Linked DNA regions of Homo sapiens. The protein of the gene in region 2 purifies or fractionates together with the protein of the main gene of each other region. This does not show direct contact. Each region holds a gene or a part of one and is shown on either strand. Other genes may lie near its edges.

Region 1 (4,260 bases), on a different chromosome or scaffold from region 2:
CGTGATGGTGCACGTCTGTAATCCCAGCTCCTCAGGAGGCTGAGGCAGGAGAATTGCTTGAACCCGGGAGGTGGAGGTTGCAGTGAGCTGAGATTGTGCCACTGCACTCCAGCCTCAGCAACACAGAAAAGCTCCATCTCAAAAAAAAAAAAAAATTAGTTAACAGTCTGAGATAAACTATTTTAACAAGAAAACACATTTAACCAAATATGGCAGTAAACTGGAAACTTTCAGTTATTGCTTCAATAAGGGAATGTTTCACAAAAATTGTCTGTTTCTTCAATACTAACATTCTTTTGTCCTAGAGACCATTCCTGTAGTTTAATAATCTCACTGCTCTCTTTATAAAATAAAAATAAACAATGTATCTATAAGGCTTAGTCTGCAATTTTCCACTGTATAATTTATTCACATTTAAAACTGTATTTCTTTTTATAGTTATATGTCAAAAAATAGTGACTAGGTTTTATGGCTTACTTAAAATATAAATGAGGAAAACAGACATTTGCCATACAAATGGCTGGTTTTAATTTTTTTTAGAGGAAATACTATAATTTAAAAAAAAAAAGAGTTCCAAAATATTTAACAGAATCTCCAGCAATGATTATTTCCAAAATGTAAAGATTTGAAACATAATTTATACAAAACTAAAAACCACAAGGATTCATTCTTGCTTTTTCCTTTTTTAAAAAATCCAGACAATTTGTCACAAGAAAGTTCGGCATGTGATAGAAGCTGTAGCCTCAGTCACCCTCGGAATCGCTGTCCCTCTTCATGAGGACAGAGCGCCGCACTGAGGACAGCAACACGTCTTCAATCGGCTTCTTAGGGTTTTCCTCCAGGTCTGTCATAATTGCTCCAGATTCAGACAGTTTCCATTCCAACTCTATATGGTAAAGAAAAAGCAAATTGCCTAAGGCACTGTGCTGCAAAGGTTCCCTCGCCCTAAGTCCATCAACCTAGTTTTTTCTAAGTAGAAAATACAATTATCGAAATTTGGCCCAGCACAATGGCTCACGCCTGTAATCCCAACACTTTGGGAGGCTGAGGCAGGAGGATCACCTGAGCCTGGGAGGTAGAGGTTGCAGACATTTAAGATCACACCACTGCACTCCAGCCTGGGCAGCAGTGAGACTGTCTCAACAATAAAAATAAAAGTAAATAAAACATAAAAATTCACTGGGTACAGTGGTGGTGTGTGCTTATAATCCCAGCTGTTTGGGAGGCTGAAGTGGCAGGATCGCTTGAGCCCAGGAGTTCAAGGCTGCAGTGAACCATGATCATGTCACTGCACTCCAGCCTACACGACAGAGCGAGACCCTGTCTCAAAAATACAAAGAATAAACCTATCCTCTGATGACTACAATTTCCCAGGAAGGAAATCAGCATGAAAAATTTGAAGGAAATAATTTCCACAGACCTTCTGGCAATCTAATCATTAAATCCAATTTTAATAAACTCTTCAGCCTCATGTCCAGTATCTCAATCTATTGGGGTCAAAGAATAAATGTATGGTGATACCCTAGAACTTACACATTTGTTCCAACTAATCAAAAAAGCACCAGATAATAAAGAATCAGTAACTGAAGACTCAGCTCCAATACTTCACTCTTAAAATCAGCAAAATTCTTGTGGTCTGAGACCAAGTGAAGCAAAATCAAGTGATGTATTTGCCTACTTCAGAGAAGAGCCCAGGCAGAACCAAAGGACTACGTAAGAGATTCTACAACAAATGGCTTCGCTTAAAGGAACATCAAGGCAGAGAGTTCTGCTAACTGGACACATCGATTAAAATCTGAAAACCAGGCCGGGCGCGGTGGCACATGCCTGTAATCCCAGCACTTTGGGAGGCCAAGGTGGGCGGATCACGAAGTCTGGAGATCGAGACCATCCTGGCTAACACGGTGAAACCCCGTCTCTACTAAAAATACAAAAAATTAGCCAGGCATGGTGGCAGGTGCCTGTAGTCCCAGCTACTCGGGAGGCTGAGGCTGGAGAATGGTGTGAACGTGGGAGGCGGAGCTTGCAGTGAGCCGAGATCGCGCCATTGCACTCCAGCCTGGGCGACACAGCGAGACTGTCTCAAAATAAAAAAAATCTGAAAACCAATTTTACTGAAGTCTTATCTTAATCTACTTTTTTGGAGACAGGCTCTCACTCCATCACCCAGGCTAGAGTGCTATGGGTGCAATCATAGCTCACTGTAACCTTGAACTCCTGGGTTCAAATGATCCTCCCGCCCATCTCCCTAGCAGCTGAGACTACAGGTGTGCACCACCACACCTGGCTACTTTCTTTTTTGTAGACATGGGATCTCGCTATGTTGCCCAGGCTGGTCTCAAACTCCTGGCCTCATGCAATCCTCCAGCCTTAGCTTCCCAACATGCTAGGATTACAGGCTTCAGCCAACGTGCTCAGTTGAATTTTACTTATTAACTTAAAGTGTTCCATGAAACAGAGAATAGAATGGTGGTTATCAGGGGAGGAGTGGAAATGGGAGATGTTGGCCAAGGATACAAACTTTCAGTTATAAGATGGTAAGTTCTGAAGACCTAATGTAGAACATGGTAACTACAGTGAATAATAACGTATTGTATACTTGAAATTTGCTAGGAAAGTAGATCTTAAGGATTCTCACCACAGTGAGGGCAGCTATGTGAAATGATGGATGGTTAATTACTTGGATTGTGGTAATCATTTCACATTGTACCTCTATTAAATCTCCATGTTGTATATCTTAAATATATTCAATTGTTTTGGTCATCATACCTCAGTCATGCTGGGTAAAAAAAAAAAAAGTGTTCCACGAAGATGAGTAACACCAGTATTTTCGGCTCTAGGTACTTTGGTTGAATGTTATATAAATTCAACCTGTTTCTTAAAAAAAAAAAAAAACAAGACTTCAGATTCCTGACTCAAGAATTTATATCCAGCCAGATGTGGTGGCTCAGGCCTGTGATCCCAGAACTTTGGGAGGCTGAGGCAGGTGGATCACTTATCACTTGAGGTCAGGAGTTCACAACCAGCCTAGGCAACACGGTGAAACCGTCTCTACTAAAAATACAAAACTTAGCCAGGCATGGTGGCACATGCCTGTAGTCCCAGCTACTCAGGAGGCTGAGGCACGAGAATTGCTTGAACCCGGGAGGCTGAGGCTGGAGTGAGCCAAGATAGTGCTACTGCACTCCAGCCTGGGTGACAGAGCAAGACCCTGTCTCAAAAATTAAAAAAATATATATATCTCTCTCTATATATATATCTTTATATATCCACACATACGTACATAAGTGTTTAATGTTACTGTTCACTTACACAAAGCAATCGTTATATGTAAGTTCACTAGACTTCAAGACTTTTTTTTAGAAATAAAAACAATTGCACACTTCTCTCTCCCCTCATGGTACATTCAAAAAAGGTCAAAATAAGATGCAAACATGTATTTAGTTTGAAATGCTGTACGCCTTTGAACACTGGAATATGTAACTGATGTATCTCCTATATGTGTGTGTTTATGTATGTTTGTATATTTATACTTTCCCCAGCTGAATATCTTTTTTTTTTTTTTTTTGAGATAGAGTTTCGCTCGTTACCCAGGCTGGAGTGCAATGGCATGATCTTGGCTCACTGCAACCTCTGCCTCCCAGGTCAAGTGATTCTCCTGCCTCAGCCTCCGAGTAGCTGGAATTATAAGTGCCCGCCACCACGCCCAGCTAATTTTTTGTATTTTCAGTAGAGACAGGGTTTCACTATGTTGGCCAGGCTGGTTTCCAACTCCTGACCTCAGGCAATCCACCCGCCTTGGCCTCCCAAAGTGCTGGGATTACAGGCATGAGCCACCGCACCCGGCCGCCAGATGAGTATCTTAGTGGTACAGTATATAAAGTCATGTTTAAAAATGTCTTTCTGGTAAAGCATAGTTGGAAATATTATTTCAATAAAGAGATAAAGAGTTTCACTTGGCAAGAATGCCTCTGGGCTGAGGTTCTCCTTCACGTTCTGTGTGGGTATGTATTTTGATACCTCCATGTTTAACAGGTAGAAAGGAATTTAAAAACACAGCCGGGCGCGGTGGCTCACATCTGTAATCTCAGCACTTTGGGAGGCTGTGGCGGGCAGATCACGAGGTCAGGAGTTCAAGACCAGCCTGGCCAACATGGTGAAAACCTGTCCCTACTAAAAATACAAAAATTAGCCAAGCGTGGTGGTGGGCGCCTGTAATCCCAGCTACCTGAGACGCTGAGGCAGGAGAATTGCTTGAAA
Region 2 (3,378 bases):
CACTGACTTGCCATAGAGCAAATGGCCCAAGGCCATATGAAGAGGCCACACTGGCTCCTAACTCCAGGCAAGTCTCCTAAGTGGCTCCTCCTTCAGAAGCCAAAAGGTAAATGTAGTGAAAAGAGCAACAGCTGGCAGTCAGGGAGGCCCAAGTTTGAACTCTGCTCCACAACGTACTTGCTGTATGACTTCACAGCAAGTGACTTTATCTTCCCTCACTTTCATGTCCTCTTCTTATTCCTTTGAGAGTTGCTGTGAGAACTACATGAGATAATGAATGTAAATGTGACTGACAGAATTAATCGCATGTAGTGGATGCTCAATTAATGTTAGTTCCTTTCCTTTCCCCCTTCTCCTCAAAGGCCCCAGAAACTCAGTCTGCTTTCCTTTGCTTTTCAGAGCATCTACCCATCTGTCTTTCTTAGAATTCAAATCCCTTCCAGAGTGGGTTCAGTGGGACAATCTCCCCAGCTCCCCACTTCCCCAAATAAGTACACGGGTCCTTTTCATTGAAGGGTTTTACTGCTAATCACTCTGGGGAAAACAGAGGCAGGTTGGGGGAGGGATAACAAGTAACAAACATGGGGGAGTGTGAAGGTCCCTGGGTCATGGCTCCCTGAGGGTTTCCCTTTCATTTCTAAGGTGGGACCTCAGATCTCTTCTCCAGACCAAGGAGGCCCCTTCCATTGAGAAGGTCACTCCTCCCACCCCAGAGATCTAGAAGCAAAGTTGGGGCACAACAGGTGGGAACTAGCAGGAAACTGCAGTGCACTCCTACCTAAGCAGTTCACAGACAATTTGGAGAACCTTCAGACAGTGACACCCATCTCATAAGTACTTCCTCAAAGGCCAGGGGGACTGCTGCCTTAATAACATGAGCATGTTCTGAGCCTACCCTATTTCTCTTTCACCCCAAGAAAGTAAAGCCAAGACTGGGTCTTCTGACTTTCCAACACGAGAAATTGGCCTGGAAAGAGGCAAGGGTTTTTATTCCAGAGTCCCTCCTCAGGACTTCCTGAGATCCTGACTTCAGAGGCTATACAAAACCATTCTCCAAAGTGGGATGAAGGGCTTGAGGTCAAGGTAGCAGCAAAAGATGCTGAAGATCTTCCTCCAATAGGTTAGGGTCTCTCACTCTCTCTCCCTCACTCTAAATGGGGCTCTCCTTCAGCTGGAATCTTTCCCAGCCTGTTCGCCCAAGTGAGTTTTCTGGTGGCGGATGAGATTCGAGCTCCGGGAGAAGTGTTTCCCACACACAGTGCACCGGTAGGGCTTCTCCCCTCTGTGGGTCCGCTGGTGTGCTCCAAAGTTGGAGATATCGCTGAAGGTCCGCCCACACTCAGTGCACTCATAAGGTCTCTCACCTGTGTGGGTGCGGTGATGCACGCCAAAGCTGGAGCTGTTGCTGAAGCTCTTCCCACACTCACAGCAGATGTAGGGTGCTGGCTCCAGGTGGGTCCGGTGATGCACAGCTAGCGTGGCACTCTGGCTGAAGCTCTTGCCACAGATGTCACAGCGGTATGGCCGCTTGCCTAGGTGATCTTGCTGGTGCGTGGTGAGGTCTGAGCGCCGCCGAAAGCTCTCCTGGCACTTGGGGCATTTGTAGTGTTTCTCTTCCAGGTGGATCCGCTCGTGCCGGATGCGGTTGGAGCTTCTCGAGAAGCTCTTGCCACATTCAGAACACTTGTAAGGCTTCTCACCAGTGTGGATCCGCTGGTGTGTTCTCAGGTTGGAGGTATTATTGAAGGTTTTGCCACACTGGGCACATATAAAGGGCTTCTCATCTGCCTCATGCCTTGGATGAGCAATGGGGTCCCCTAGCTCTCGAGCCCGGACAGTGACTTTCTGCCATGGCTTTTTTGGATGAGTTTCTTGCAGTTCATCCGACAGGCTCTCTTGCCCATGCTCCTTCTCCCCAGGTGGGATCCAAGAACCCTCTGAGTCATCCACTCTCCAAGGCTTACCCCCTTCCCCTTCCTCAGGCAGGTGTGGTTCTGGACTCTGCTCCTTCTCACTGCCCATCTCTGAACCCTGAGAATGAACACAAATGGCCAACACCTTTATTCTTTGGGTTGGGCCAGATCACAGGGAATCTTTTGTTCAGTTTGAAGGGTATACACCTTCCCCATGGGACCATCCATTAGAAATAACCTCAATCAACTGGAATACTTGGATAGAATACCTTTACTTGCTACCTTTTAAGTGACAAACTTTCAGAGATATTTAAAGCTACCCACCAGAGCAAAAAGAAGGCACCGGCTTTGTCCACCACCACCAGATGATATTTGTGCCATTTGAATAATGTCACTCTTCTTGAAACCACTAAGCAATGACAATCCAGACTATAATTCATGGGCAAGTAAAAGAGCTTTCATTTTGGGATAAGTTCAATTTTTCTGCCTAACTGTAAGTTAACTGTAACTCTTTTTATGTTTAATCCTTTTTGAAAAACCTTCCTTACAAGTATCTACCTATATGCCTGCTTTCAAAATGAACAAAACAAAACCTCTAAATCTTGAGGCTTTCCTAGGTGACAAGGCCCAGCTTTGGCTTTTCTTGAGATTTCTGCCACTCTACCCCTCTCCAGCCCACACCAGAATCTAGCAAGTAAACATCTGGGTTAATACCTGGGACCTCCAGGACCTACTGTGGGGCCTGGGCTGTGTTTCTTCTGATCAGTCAGTGCCCTCCACTACATTCTCAAACACCATACAAAGCCCCACCCACACCCCCCGCCCACACACGCATGCATGCACACAAGCAAGCAGAATCACACAGACACAGTCACACCATACACAAAGCCATATTCTCACGTAACACGGTCATACTCACATACCTGACATACTCGGTCACATTCTCATACCACACACAACAGCTATACACCTACACACCACACACAGCCATACATTATCACACCACACACATACATACTACATACACACTCATACCACATATAGCCACATACCACAGCCACACACATATATAGCTACATACATGTCTATACACATATACCCATACACCACACACAGACACACACTCACATACCAAGTACACACAAAGATAAACACAGACACAGACACACAAACCACACTCCCCACACCCCACCCCAAAACTAAACACATAAGAGTGCCCAGTACAGGTCCTGATTTGTGCAAACATCACTAATGTGTGCTAAGCTGCACAGACTCCTTTGGGTTCCTACAGCCAAGGACAGGGAAAGAGTTGGGGGGAAAAGTACCTCTGATGAGAGTGGTAGCATTTCCTCCGGGCCTTGAAGAAATAACGACATTTCAGCAGAGTGGGTTGGTGAACAGAGTGACATGAACAAAGGGATGAGGGAGGGAAGCACAAACTATCATAGGACACTGATGATAGAAA

The links.
Region 1: the proteins of ZNF691 (region 2) and PDCL3 purify together in Homo sapiens (affinity purification with mass spectrometry; one large-scale study listed by BioGRID and IntAct). This does not show direct contact.

The regions. Positions count from the first base shown.
Region 1 is NC_000002.12:100,572,980-100,577,239, reverse strand, and holds the end of PDCL3 (phosducin-like protein 3), read right to left. Parts: intron 887-4,260; coding exon 744-886; 3' UTR 501-743; downstream 1-500. UniProt on the Homo sapiens protein: Acts as a chaperone for the angiogenic VEGF receptor KDR/VEGFR2, increasing its abundance by inhibiting its ubiquitination and degradation.
Region 2 is NC_000001.11:42,849,603-42,852,980, reverse strand, and holds the end of ZNF691 (zinc finger protein 691), read right to left. Parts: 5' UTR 3,323-3,378; coding exon 3,239-3,322; exon of another isoform or gene 2,295-3,238; coding exon of another isoform or gene 2,238-2,294; intron 2,032-2,237; coding exon 1,168-2,031; 3' UTR 504-1,167; downstream 1-503. UniProt on the Homo sapiens protein: May be involved in transcriptional regulation.